Homo sapiens: one gene and its partner. The protein of the gene in region 1 interacts with the protein of each later gene in a pairwise test. Each region holds a gene or a part of one and is shown on either strand. Other genes may lie near its edges.

Region 1 (7,110 bases):
GATATTAGCCCTTTGTCAGATGGGTAGATGGTAAAAATTTTCTCCCATTCTGTAGGTTGCCTATTCACTCTGATGGTAGTTTCTTTTGCTGTGCAGAAGCTCTTTAATTAGATCCCATTTGTCAATTTTGAGTTTTGTTGCCATTGCTTTTGGTGTTTTAGTCATGAAGTCCTTGCCCATGCCTATGTCCTGAATGGTATTGCCTAGGTTTTCTTCTAGGGTTTTTCTGGTTTTAGGTCTAACATTTAAGTCTTTAATCCATCTTGAATTAACTTTTGTATAAGGTGTAAGGAAGGGATCCAGTTTCAGCTTTCTACATATGGCTAGCCAGTTTTCCCAGCACCATTTATTAAATAGGGCATCCTTTCCCCATTTCTTCTTTTTGTCAGGTTTGTCAAAGATCAGATGGTTGTAGATGTGTGGTATTATTTCTGAGGGCTCTGTTCTGTTCCATTGGTCTGTATCTCTGTTTTGGTACCAGTAGCATGCTGTTTTGGTTACTGTAGCCTTGTAGTATAGTTTGAAGTTGGATAGGGTGATGCCTTCAGCTTTATTCTTTTGGCTTAGGGTTGTCTTGGCAATGCAGGCTCTTTTTTGGTTCCATATGAACTTTAAAGTAGTTTTTTCCAATTCTGTGAAGAAAGTCATTGGTAGCTTGATGGGGATGGCATTGAATCTATAAATTACCTTGGGCAGTATGGCCATTTTCACAATATTGATTCTTCCCATCCATGAGCATGGAATGTTCTTCCATTTGTTTGGTCCTCTTTTACTTGGTTGAGCAGTGGTTTGTAGTTCTCCTTGAAGAGGTCCTTCACATCCCTTGTAAGTTGGATTCCTAGGTATTTTATTCTCTTTGTAGCAATTGTGAATGGGAGTTCACTCATGATTTGGCTCTCTCTTTGTCTGTTATTGATGTATAGGAATGCTTGTGATTTCTGCACATTGATTTTGTATCCTGAGACTTTGCTGAAGTTGCTTATCAGCTTAAGGAGATTTTGGGCTGAGACGATGGAGTTTTCTACATGTACAATCATGTCATCTGCAAACAGGGATAATTCGACTTCCTCTTTTCCTAATTGAATACCCTTTATTTCTTTCTCCTGCCTGATTGCCCTGGCCAGAACTTCCAACACTGTGTTGAATAGGAGTGGTGAGAGAGGGCATCCCTGTCTTGCGCCAGTTTTCAAAGGGAATGCTTCCAGTTTTTGTCCATTCAGTATGATATTGGCTGTGGGTTTGTCATAAATAGCTCTTATTATTTTGAGATACGGCGGACGCATCACTTGAGGCCAGGAGTTCGAGACCAGCCTGGGCAACATAGTGAAATCCTGTCTCTACTAAAAATACAAAAAACATTAGCCAGGCATGGTGGTGCACGCCTGTGGTACTGGCTACTGAAGAGGCCGAGTTCGTGCTACTGCACTCCAGCCTGGGCAACACAGCAAGACTTGGTCTCAAAAATAAATAAATAAATAAATAAATAAATAAATAAATAAATAAATAGATATAGAAACTAAGAAGATGATGGTGTTACTCACTGGATGCAAAATGTAACCAACCAGTTATGTAATTGTACTCTGAATCTGTTCTTCTAGTATTGTGAAAGAATGGTATTGGCATAAAGATGTGATTTTTTTCTTGTATGTATTGTTAAAGTCACAGAAAATCATCTATATTGTGGTAAGAGAGAATATATGCCAGACAAATGCTCTGCTGTCTGTCAGAAAGAGGAATAAAGACACAATCTGGAACCAGGAAATAAATAATAATAATAATAATTATTATTATTATTATCAAAAGGAATAATCAGACACTTTAGCAAAAGAAATAAGTTGGAGGGCATTTGTCTTTATTGTCTCTTTTCTATTTAATTCATTTCTTTTTATGCTTTCTTTGACTATAATTTGCACTTGCTTTAGTTTCTCAAGATGAATGCTTAATTTTTAAACTCTTCTTTTCAAATGTAGGCATTTGAAATTATAAATTTCCCTCGAAACAGTTCTTTAGTTGCATCCCGTAAGTTTTGGCATTGTATTTTTGTTACCATTTTGTTAGAAGTATTTTCTAATTTCCCTTCATTTTTTTTTTTTTTTTTTTTGAGATGGGGTTTCGCTCTTGTTGCCCAGGCTGGAGTGCAGTGGCACTATCTCTGCTCACTGCAACCTCTGCCTCCCGGGTTCAAGCAATTCTCTTGCCTCAGCCTCCCGAGTAGCTGGGATTATAGGCATGCACCACCACGCCCAGCTAATTTTGTATTTTTAGTAGAGATGGGGTTTCTCCATGTTGGTCAGGCTGGTCCCAAACTCCCGACCTCAGGTGATCCACCTGCCTCAGCCTTCCAAAGTGCTGGGATTATGGGCCTGAGCCCCCGGCACCCCGCTTCCTTGTTTTTCTCTTTAACACATGAGTTATTTAGAAGTATGTTATATAGTTTCCACCTATTTGGAGATGTGAAAAAGATTTTAACTGATTTATAATTCCAGGTGGTCAGACCCTGAAAGATGTCAGTCTTTTCAAATTTGTTGAGCCTTATTTTATGGCCCAACATCTGTTCTTTCTTGGTGAATGTTCTGTGCACACCTGTTAGGATGTGTATTCCACAGTTTTTGGTGTAGAGGATGGTGTATCTGATTGTATTTATTCTACTTAAGTTTTTTTCTCCTGTGATATTTCTTTCTTTTTTTTGAGACAGAGTCTCACTCTGTCGCCCAGGCTGGAGTGCAGTGGCACAATCTTGGTTCACTGCAACCTCTGCTTCCTGGGTTTAAGTGATTCTCATGCCTCAGCCTCCCAAGTAGCTGGGATTACAGATGTGCACCATCACGCCTGGCTATTTTTTGTATTTTTAATAGAGACGGGGTTTTGCCCTGTTGGCCAGGCTGGTCTCAAGCTCCCGGCCCCATGTGATCCACCTACCTTGGCCTCCCAAAGTGCTGAGATTACAGGCGGGGGAGCCCCTGCGCTGGTATTGGTATTTCTAATAGTGCTTTATTACTCAATGATAGAAGTGCTGAAGTAAAACAGATTTTCAATTTTAACTCTATAAAATTGTGCTAAGAAAATGATGGCGTTACAAAATGTAACCAACCGGTTATCTAGTTGCATTCTGAATCTCTGAATCTGTTCTGCTAGTATGAAGGCTTGAGAGTGGCTATCTAGCAGTATGAACTTATTGTCAGTTTTGCCTAGTTCAGCTAAAAATTTTGAGCTAAAACATTTTGTTTCATCTTAGTCGTGGATTGTAATTTGAAAGAGAACTTCAGACATGAAGTACTAAATAAGTGATATAAGCCATTTTGGCACAAAATGGAATAACAATGCCTTAAATTTGATAAAAACTAGGTGGATTCGGGCTTTATCATTTTCATTTCAACTCCAATACCACAAAGTTTCAGTTCTCTGTGGAGTCCTAGAATGTTCTTCCAATAATCTTGAGCTTACGGTAGACATAAGTTTTAGCAAAAATGTCAGTGTGTTCAGTTACAGTGGTGAAGTAGATTCCCTGCTGGGAACAAAGGATTCTGTGTGCCATATTCAGATGTACAACATTCCAGAATGAGAGTCATGCAAGAAACTGCCTCAGGACAAGCCAGAGTTGTCATATTTTTAATATGTTTTCTTACTGTTACAGAAGTTCAAACAGTTGAATGATATAAATTGTTTTGTACTATGGGTCCAATATAGTATTGATGTGTGACTTTTATATCTGAGACATTTTGTCTTGAGTTTAAGTTAGTTGTCTTCATTGGCAGGGGTGATTTGAGGTGAGTTTCACTTTCTTGAACCCATGTGCCTGATAATTAGAGGGTTCAGGATAAGTTTTGCACATAGCCTTGCTGCCTGCTTATCTTTGTAAAATGGCCCTTTCCTTCAGTCAGTATTTTAAAGTAGGCTACTCTATATAGTTTCCCAAACTCTGGTAGGATACTTTTAACTCTCTGCAGCAGATAGTATAGGGCAAGGGCTCTTTACTAGAGCCAAAAGTAAATGGCATTTTAGGTCCTTGCTCCAACCAGAAAGGTTCACTCCATATTACAGATGTTACTATTAGGAAGAGGTTATAGTGTCTAGAATGTTTGAAAACAAATGTTTGTAGGGAAACAGTGTGTGTTCTTGAAGCTTGTAGTTTTGTTGGTGAGATAAGACAAAATATGTGAAAACCTAAATAGTGGTATAAAACAGGATATATTGAGTCCCAGATGGTTCATAATATGAGTCGTGAAGATGCCAAAGCAAAGGTAACCATTGTGGCCGTGACAGGGTTGGAAAGGAGCTCCTGAGGTTGGGAGAGACAGAAGGAAAGCTATGAAGGTCGCTCCTTGTTCTTTGGCCATCTCTGACTCATCCTATATTATTTGGTTAGGAAAGGAATTATCTCACAGTTTTTATCTTCTGTTTGCAGCCTGAAGAGTTGAGAGAAATCATTGAGAAGACAAGAGAGATGGAGCAGAACAATGGCCACTACTTTGATACGGCAATTGTGAATTCCGATCTTGATAAAGCCTATCAGGAATTGCTTAGGTTAATTAACAAACTTGATACTGAACCTCAGTGGGTACCATCCACTTGGCTGAGGTGAAAGAAACATCCATTCTGTGGCATGTTGGACTTGATCTGGCAAAAACTGCCAATAGGAGGACTGCCCGACACTGCAGCAAGATTGAGGATAAGATGGAAGGCAGCAGTATAAGCTGTAGATCTGTTCTTAGATCTCTTGAATTAGTGAGACGACAGTTCCCTTAGGCAGTTTGTGCATGGCATCCTTTATTCTCTATACATGGCTTTAGCGGTTCTTGCCTCATTTTGGGATTCTAAATGGAAGCTTTCAACAGAGCATTCCATTTTGTCCTGTTAAAACCTTTTGTTTTCACCTAAACCCTTTCTGCTTAGTTGTATCTCTGTGAAAAACTTGTATACACAAGCGTCCATGTCTCACACAAATATTGATGTGATTATTCTTAAGTGTTAAATCATTAACACTTAAATGACTTCATTGGGAATATTGAGCAGAGGGACTGTGCTTCTATGCACTGGGCAAGGCAGTATTTGCTTAGGAAACTAATTTAGTCATCAGAGATACTTTCCTAAAAAGGAAAAATAAAAAACAAAATGGTGCCACTTTGGGTTGAAGCTACTTTGTTAGGCTTGAATTCATTTATATGTCTTTTGATTCTTAAAAAAACAAAAAACATTCCATTAGAAGCACCAGTTTTTTTGCTCAGACTTTGTGGATCAGACTCTACACTCAACACACTCTAATCTACTTAAAGGTATACAAAATATGCTGATCTTTTTTAAATTATGATTTCCTGAATTTTTTTCTTAAGTCGTCTCAACTGATTTACTCACTTAGCTTCCCTTCCCTCATCAGCATAGTATAATAGAATGTATGTTACATTTTTATGAATGGCAGGTGTTCATTATAATCTGTATTGACTTAAAAAGTTTCTTCCTCATGATGCTAATAGTTTTTTGTATACATGGGAGGATAGCACATTTGACAGTTTTTGCATTTTTATGTATGAGCACAGTATCCTATGACTGTGCTACGTATATATAGGTAATAAACTGGAATTCTGTTGATGAATATAGCTGCTGTACTGTATATTAATATTTAATAGATCAACAAATGGTCATTGAAAACACTTGTTTAGCATTAGAATAAAATTATATATGTCCTTGGGAAATATTATGACAGTTGACTTTAAGATCAAAAGGAAGGGAAGACCTGAAAGTCATTTGAACATTTTAGGAAAAGAATATTGGAGAGAAAAAGGTATTAAATATATAGAAATAGGTTTTTAACCTAACAAGGTCTGCCTCTTATGACGAGAATGCAACAGCTTGGTAAATCATAAAAGAAACATTTAAGCTAATAGGATTTTCGTACTGTCTCTATAGCTGTAGCTTTAAAATTCAACGTATATAATTGGCATGGAAACTTAATTTGCAGTCTTTTCAAGCCTTTAGGATAGTGTGATGTGTAACAAACAACCTCAAATGTGAATGCCTTGATTTTATTTTTATGGTGACTTTAGCTACAGCATTTCCTATACCCAGAGCTAAACACTGGAATAATACTGACATCATTTAATTTAACATAAGCAATTATGTTTAAGGAGTAATTTGTGTCATGTACATATTTGATTGATTTTTTTTCTTCTACATAATTTTATTTGAACAAATGTAGACAGTTTATATGTCGCCTTTTTCTGTTCAAATTTGCATGGCCTATTAAGTTGGCTGGAGAGTGTTTTATGTGGAAATATTTTCAAGATAATGTTCCTTAGGAAGAAAATAACATTCTTGGGTTGAGGGAAGGAATGCCATACACTACTGTCTCTTCAGATCTGAAATACTCCAGTTTAGAGCCAGGAAATTTCACAGGTCACACCGATTTTTAGCATTAAAAACTAAGGAATATACTTAGCACTTACTTAATCTTTTCAGTTTTCCAGTTTACGTCTCAGGAATGAAGTGTAGTCTATGGTTGACAATGGAGTTTTGTGATCCTGCTTATTGTAACTGACAACTGTTTTCAACTCCAAGAGCTAAACTATTGGCAGTTCATGTTAAGTTAGAGTGAGGGTGTAGGTAGTGTCAGTGAGTGGCTCTTGTGCCTGCTGTAGACATTAGGCCTGCACTAGGGCCATGTGCTGTCAAGATTCAGGAACATGGCTTTAACAAGCAGATCTTGTATCAAGGCAGAGGTGATGCCATGCCATACTTTTAGGAAGTCTGAGATGATAAATATTTCAAGGTCAGTGAAGTCTATCAATCATTCTCCCCTTCCTCATCAGCAATGGTAGATAGAAATGTCCTAAACTTTTCTAAATCCTAGTGATGAGGATGTGCTGATATTCAACATAGTCCTTAAAGTGAAAACTGAGTTGTTGCTGACCTCCACAAAAGAATATGGAAAAAAGCCTTGCTGTACACCTAGTTGTACAGCCACTCTGGCCAATTCCATTTCCTGTCCCTCTGTGGTTCTGACTGGAGACCCCAGTGTGGGGGAGGTCTTACCATTTAATATAGAAATGATATCAATAACTAATGCTATGTACTTGGAAAATCCAAATAAGGAAGTTTTAGGTTGGTGCATAACTT
Region 2 (7,297 bases), on another chromosome or scaffold:
ACTGTCCAGAAAGGGGCTGGCTATAAAGCCTACACCCCTCCATATGGTGCAACGCTGTACAGCTGGTAAACGTGACCTCGTACATGAACGTTTTGAGACAAGGAAAAGGTGGGCCTAACACTGTTAAGGCAGGATTTAAAGCAGCAGAAGATATTAGCCGGAGTCTGTTTAGGATGAAAACAAAATTTATCTGCCAAAAAACGGAAGAAAACGCCCCCTAAAAAAGATACTTGTTGTCTCTGGGGATAAAGCTTATGCGCGGTTTCATTTTATTCTTCTTTTAAACATATTTCCCTAGTTTTCTATAATGAATGTGTGATGTTTTTGAAATTAAAGCAAATGTTATTTTAAAACCCATCTGTGAGCAAGCTCTAAGGGAGCAGGCCCAGGAGGTCCTGGCCCTGGGATGTCTGCTCTGGCCTGGCCTGACCCAGCCCCCTGGCACAGGGCTGCTCCTCAAGACAAGGGCACAAAGCCCTTGATGGATCCCAGGTACCTATTTTTGCTCAGAGTATTAAGGGACAAACCAAGGAACATTCCAGCTCTATCCAATGTGGCACATTCACAGGAACAGAGGGGTTTGAATTGGGACTGCCCCAAGCAGCATTCATGACGGCCATAGTGGCCAAGCCCCCACCACACACCTGGCACCTGCTCCAGGCCTGGCCTGGATGGGCAGCAGGTGTGGACTGAGGGTAGGTCCATCTTGTGCCAAGCACTGTGCTGGGCCCCCCTGCCCTAGAGAAGTCTTGTCCAGGGCCAGCATTGGAGCAGCTTCATCTAGATGGGAAGGGTTAACACCTAAACAGACACCCACAAAGACGGCACAGAAGGGGGCCCTCACTCCACTGTGGGAAGAGGCAGGCCAGAAATCCTGCAGGAGGACTTGACTGAGCCTTCTGGACAAGCAGGCAGGAGCCAGGCAAGCTGGGAGGTGGCTGGGCATTCCAGCAGGGGTTGTGCCCAGAAGAGGAGGCAGCAGAGGGACAGTGAGCCAGGCTTGTGGCCAGGAACACGCAGGTGGCTGGGAGGTGACTGCTGGAGAGAGGACACAGGAGGGAGAGGCTGAGTGAGCAGCGAGGCGGGTCCCTGAGGGCCCGAAAGAATGCCGGCTCCTGGCTCGGGAGGCGGACCTGACCCGATAGCCCAGAGGGAAGTGGCAGCTGAAGAACCAGCAGGGCTGCGTGCAGCCAGGCCCGGATCGGGACCAGGGAGGAGCCTGGGGGTCGTCCAGGGAGAGGCGAGGGTCCTGAACCAGGGCAGGCATCCGAGTGAGGCTCAGGAGCCAGGAGAGACCCAACTGGGAGTGAGGAATGAAGGGCACAGGGGGTGGTCTGGTTTGTGGCTGGGGCTGGCTGGCTGTGGTGGTACCACTTCCGGAAGTAGGGAAGTGGGAGGGGAGGGGAGCCGTGTAGGCATAAAGCTCCCGACCTATTATGATTCTTATTGCCACCGTCAAGGATGGGTGTTTCGGGTCTGTCTGGCAGTGCAGACATCTCTGGGGGTTGAGACTGAGCTGAGGTCCCCTCTGTGACCAGCCCCAGAAGCCTGTCCAGCACTGGTCCGGGATGGGCAGGGGAGGCCTAAGTCAGAGACGCCCTCCATGCTCTTCCATCCTGGGAAAGAAGGTGAGATGGGGTCTCCCAGCCAACTTTTCCTGTGTCTGCGAAGGGAGGACAAACCAGCAGGTAGGGAAAAGAGGCTGAAATGTGGAGAAGCCTCCCTCCAAATCCCTGGTTGGATACAACGGAGACCCCATGGGAATCACAGACCCTTGGACACAGAAGTAAACAGGTGGCGACAGTGACAAAGGTGGCCTCTGGGCTTCCCGTGGGCTCCCTCTCCTGCTGCAGAGAACAGGCAGCCAGCACATGGGGTACCCAGGGCACAGCTCCTTGAGTGATGGATGCTGGCATAAGAGAAAGCCCTTTACAAACTGCAAAGCCCTGGGCCAAATGCCAGGGGTCACTGTCCAAGGTGAGGAGAGACGGGGCTGCTTCTGGAGAGATAGGGCAGAGGCCTCACACCAGGCTCTGCCCCATCAGCTTCGTGGTCCTGGGCTGGCACCAAACCCTGCTGAGCCTCAGCTTCCTGGGGTGTCAAACGGGGACTATAACTTCTCCGCCTAAGGCTACTGAGAGGGTTAAATCTGGGTGGTGGGGGGTTGCACAAATGCGACTTCCTTGGAATTCATAACATCATCTGCTAAGTGGGTGAGAGGCCAGGGCGCCATCACATCCAAAAGGGCTGGGTAGGATTCTCCAGAAAGTTTTCGTTGATCAAACAAAAAGCTAATGATCCAGAGGGTGGAGTTCATACGAGGCAGGGTCCAGGTGCTGCCACTGAAACCCCTCAACTCTCTACTGAGGGGCCCCGAGAGAGAGAGGAACTGCCACAGCGCTCCTAAGTGGGCTGTGGGGATTCAGAATGACCCCTAAGCTGCCCCTCGGGCGGGCCGGGTCCCCCTGGGGGACTGAACCCCCCTTCCCCCCCACAACACCTCCCGGGGGCCCAGGCGCGTTCCAACGGCCGGGCGGGCACCGAGGGCGGCCGTGGGTCCCGGGACCGCGGGGGAGGGGCATGACGGGGCAACTCGGGGGGGATGGCGCGGGGCGCGGGGAGGGGGCCTGCCCGCCGGCCGCTCCGCCTCTCGGGCCTGCTGTCCCGCCCGCGGCGGGGCTCCAGGCGACAGCGCGCGGGGGACCGGGGCGCGCCCCCCGGGTGACCCGTTCGGGCCCGGAACAGGGGTCGCCTTGCGCGTTGCAGAGCGGGCGGGACCCCCGGCCCTCCAACTTCGGGGACCTTGTCGGGACTTTGGGGCCAGCCACCCATCAGCTCGGAAGGGGAAACTGAGGCCCGAAGAGGACAGTGCCTCAGGGCTCTTGCCCGCCTCCTGCGCGCTGCCCACAGCCACCGCGCCACTGCCCCAGCGCCGAAGTACTCACCGGCCCGTGAGTGGGCCGCACGCGGCGCTGCGACGCCCTGGGGCCTCTGGGCCGGCAGAAAAGTTGTTCGGGAGCAGCTGAACGCGGCGCAAACGGGAGATCTGCGGCCGCGGGGGAGCAATCTGCACTCGCTGCTGAAGAGCCGGCTAGCGCGGCCTTCTGCACGAGGGGGCGGGGCAGGGGCGGGGCCTTCGGCCTCCCTCCACTCCAGACGCGGCCCCCCGGATGCGGCGCCAGCTCGGCCTGCTGAGTGGCCGGTGTAGCCGCCAATCACTCCACATCTCCGCCAATCACGGTGCGCCTCGCCTAGCTGCGGCCCGGCACTCCCCCTGCGTGGTTGGGCCCGAGGGGCCAGAAGGCGGGTCCGGCTCGCCCACAGCGAAAGTTTCCGAGCGGACTCGGGCCCCGGCCCCGCCCCCGCCCCGCCCGCGGAACGTCCAGTTGCTTAGCGAGGCCGCTCGCCTTCTCCTGTAACAGGTGGTTTGGACCCGTGGAAAAGGCTCCGGCCACCTTTCATCCACCACTCCGGCCTCAGCGTCCCCAACTGCAGATTCATTATATTTGCTGTTGCAATATTAACACACGTCTTGAGCGCCTATTCCGGCGCTGCAAGAGAGTCTAAGGGCTCCCCTAATAACAGCAGCAGAGATGGAAAAATGGGGCCTGTTTGAAACGAGTGTCTGCAGCCAAGTACTGCTTTCAGTGCCCAGAATCAAATGCAGTGTAGCAAGCTTTTCACACGGTGACTGTGGGATTCCTTTAAAGTGTGTGTTAGCCCAGGGAGTGGGCAAGGCTCAGGCAGTTTGGAGACTCTGGGAGTTTGGTTCCTGTCTGGGAGGCGTGGTTTGGAGATGAGGGCGAGGGTCTATCCTTGAGAGGCCCTGGGGAACGTGAGACCCTGCCTGCTCTGTCTCTGGTCCCCACAACCAACCTGAGCTACCTGTCCTAGTTATCACAGCAGAAACTGGGGCTCGGAGTGACTGTCAGAGATAATGCTTACCAACATGTTGGGAGCAAATATTCCAGATGGCTTTGGAGATGAGTTCTGAACACACTACTTCGGAGGACTTTTGTCAAAGCGGCGTAGTTCATGTCAGTCACCTCATTTGATTCTCCAGCTGCCCCCACTGCCCACCCCCGATCCCCAATGTTCACGTGTGACCCTGTGAGGCTCACAGAGGAAGGAAGAACACCTGCCGTCAGCCTCGCCTGCTCTGTCCAGGTTGGCTTAGGGGCTTTCACAGCTTTCAAGGGCCCCCCTAGTGACCCAAGGAGGGAGGTGGCACTGAGCCCATTTTTTATTGATGTGAAAATTGAGGCTCAGACATAGTTATTTGCCCAAAGTCTTGAAGATGTCTTTCCACCTTATCACACACTAACTGTAGAAAATTTGGAGAATTACTAAAAGTAGAAAGGAGAAAAAAAATCACTCAAAGATGATCACTGTTCACATTGTGAGATTTATGCACATTTAAGAAAATAATAAATATTAATGTGAACACACAATCACAGAGAGGCTGAAGCACTTCCCAAACCCTTTGCAGGGGCTCATTAAGCAGAGAGAAGAGGACAGATTGAAAAGTTCCTCCTGTGGAGGTCTAAGGGAAGAGAGGAAGTGCAACAAAAAATCTACAAGATGGCTTAAGGAGCCTCTATCAGAACACAGCAACACTGAACATACTCCACGGAGCTAAGAGACTGAAAAAGCAACAGGCAAATTCAGAAAGAGAAGAGTGGAGGTGAGGACAAATGAGCAAACTGGAAGATAATGTGGAGTAAATGCTTCATGATGTAGAGGAAAAGCACATGAAAATCATCAGGACAAAAAGCAGAGACTGGAAAGACAGTTCCAGGAGGTGTATTGCACAAAGGACAGGTACTCCAGGAAGAGCTGGAGGGGAAACAGAGGTGAGCAAAGTGCCAGGAGAACGTGTCCCTGGAAATCCCAGATGCCAAGGATAAAGAGACGGTCTTGCAGAGTTCCAGAAAGAACAGGTCACATCTAAGGGGAGAAAAGTTGAAGTGGTTCCTAGGGGACTTTGGAGCAATGTCCAGGGACTCTGATGATAGGATCAAGGATCCTTACCATGGCTACTACAGGATTCATCTATGTGGACAAAAGAGAGAAAATATCCACTGTGGCAAGACAGAGAAAGGACCTCAGTGATGTCCCCTTTCAGAGGAAGATATTCAGAGTTCCCCCGTCACCGAGACAGTTCAATCACAGTAGAGATTTCAAGATAGAGCAAACGCTCAGAACAGGAAGTGGTGTTAAGCAATGACCCTTGCAAAATATACAGTATGGATAATCCACATGTGCCTGTGATTTTGTACTAGCAGTGCCACATAAGGATTCTTAAAACATAAGCTACATGCTTCAAGAGAAAGTTGTATTAGCCTGGAACTAAAAAAAAAAATAGAATCTTATCACAGAGAAGTCAGAATATTTTAAGATCACATTTGGTTGAGGGGAGAAGGAGGAAGTAAAAGGATCTGATTTGGTGAGTGGGGAAGGAAAGCCTTATTGGTGGTTGGGAGGGGTGCTTCATTACCATTTACTTTTAATACATTAGCAGGGAAAGATTGGTTTAATTATGACTCTCAGCTGGGGAAGGAAAGCCTTATTGGTGGTGGGGAGGGGGCTTCATTACCATTTACTTTTAATACATTATCAGGGAAAGATTGGTTGAATTATGACTCTCAGGAATTGGAAAGTAGCAACTCACGGGAAAGAAGCAGAGTAGAACTCCTGAATTACTAGGTAGAAGTTGGGGGAGGGGTGGAGGGAGAGTAAGGAAGCAAAATTAAGGGGGAAAGTAAATAATAGCAAGAACAATAAGCTTAATAATAGTAAACATAAGATGAGATAAAATAAATAAAGCCATGGCTACCCGCCTTCGTAACACGGTGAATGGGCTGAATTTCCCATCCAAAGTCTGTAAGATTGGGGCAAAAACTAAAGTCCAGTTAAGCGCTATTTACAAGAAACACACCAAAAATATTGAGAAGTAGAAGATCACAGCAGACATTTGAAAAATGGCAAATTACTATTGATAAGGAAGAACGCATGATGGAAAGCATTCACGGGAAGAGTGGTATTATGTAAGGGTGCCAGGCACAATCCACAAAGATTTCATTGTCATGAATCTGAATGAGCCAGAAAATCTAGTAGCCACACACTTAAAGCAGTAACTGCTAGAAATACTAGAACTTATTAAAACACAACTCTGGTGGGAGAAAGAGCCAGCTGTTCAATGCTATCTTTTCTAGGACACCTGTCCTCATTCCCCCAAGAGCTGAGCTCTGCATGTTGCTGCTGAGTATTGAATGAATGAATGGATGGATGGATGGATGAATCACCTATGCAAGGACTTCATATAAGCTCTTTCTTGCCCATAGGACAGTGTCCAAACTCTTTAACCTGACATCCAAATATACCCCCCACAATTCAGTCCTTTGATGTCTGCCCATGATTTTCAGACTCTGCATTCAAGTTCTTGGCCCACTTCCTTCCCTACACCTATTTAAAACCTACTTCCATTTACTCAACAAACATTTAGTGACTTTTGGCCAGGCGTGGTGGCTCACACCTGTAATCCTAGCCCTTTGGGAGGCCGAGGTGGGTGGATCACTTGAGGTCAGCAGTTCGAGACCAGCCTGGCCAACATGGAGAAACCCCATCTCTACTAAAAATACAAAAAAATTAGCCGGGCGTCATGGCACATGCCTGTAATCCCAGCTACACAGGAGGCTGAGGCAGGAGAATCGCTTGATCCCAGGAACTGGAGGTTGCAGTGAGCAGAGATCATGCCACTGCACTCCAGCCTGGGCGACAGAGTAAAACTCTGTCTCAAAAATAATAAGAATAATAATAAAATAAATAAAAATTAAAAAATATAAACATTTAGTGACATCCTGCCTGTTCCAGGCATTGGACTACATGCCAAGTATTCAAAGAAAATGAGGACAGAGGCTTGGTGAGTTGTCATTTGAAAGACAGCAGAGTGTGGCGGTTTACAGGCTATTGGTGTACAAGGCCCCCAAAGAGATCACTTCCTGGAGCCTGTGAATGGTACCTTATTTAGAAAAGGGTTTTTGCAGATGTGATTAAGGATTTTGAGAAGGGGCCATTAGCCTGGCTTATCTCCTTGCAGGAGAGAGGCAGACAGAGATTTGACCACACACGGAGAAGTTGATGTGGACATAGAGCAGAGAGAGATTCCAAGACGCTGGCATTGAAGATAGGAATTATGTGGCCACAAGTCAAGGAATGCAGGCAGTCCCTGGAATCTGGAAGAGCAGGGAACAGATTCTCCTTGATTTTTGCCCAGTGACACTGATTTCAGACTTCC

The links. The genes of interacting proteins can lie anywhere in the genome.
Region 2: the proteins of PALS1 (region 1) and WFS1 interact in binary tests that used the Homo sapiens proteins (3 or more experiments, as listed by UniProt).

The regions. Positions count from the first base shown.
Region 1 is NC_000014.9:67,328,375-67,335,484, forward strand, and holds part of PALS1 (protein PALS1), read left to right. Parts: intron 1-4,405; coding exon 4,406-4,582; 3' UTR 4,583-7,110. UniProt on the Homo sapiens protein: Plays a role in tight junction biogenesis and in the establishment of cell polarity in epithelial cells.
Region 2 is NC_000004.12:6,265,663-6,272,959, reverse strand, and holds the start of WFS1 (wolframin), read right to left. Parts: upstream 3,111-7,297; 5' UTR 2,946-3,110; intron 1-2,945. UniProt on the Homo sapiens protein: Participates in the regulation of cellular Ca(2+) homeostasis, at least partly, by modulating the filling state of the endoplasmic reticulum Ca(2+) store.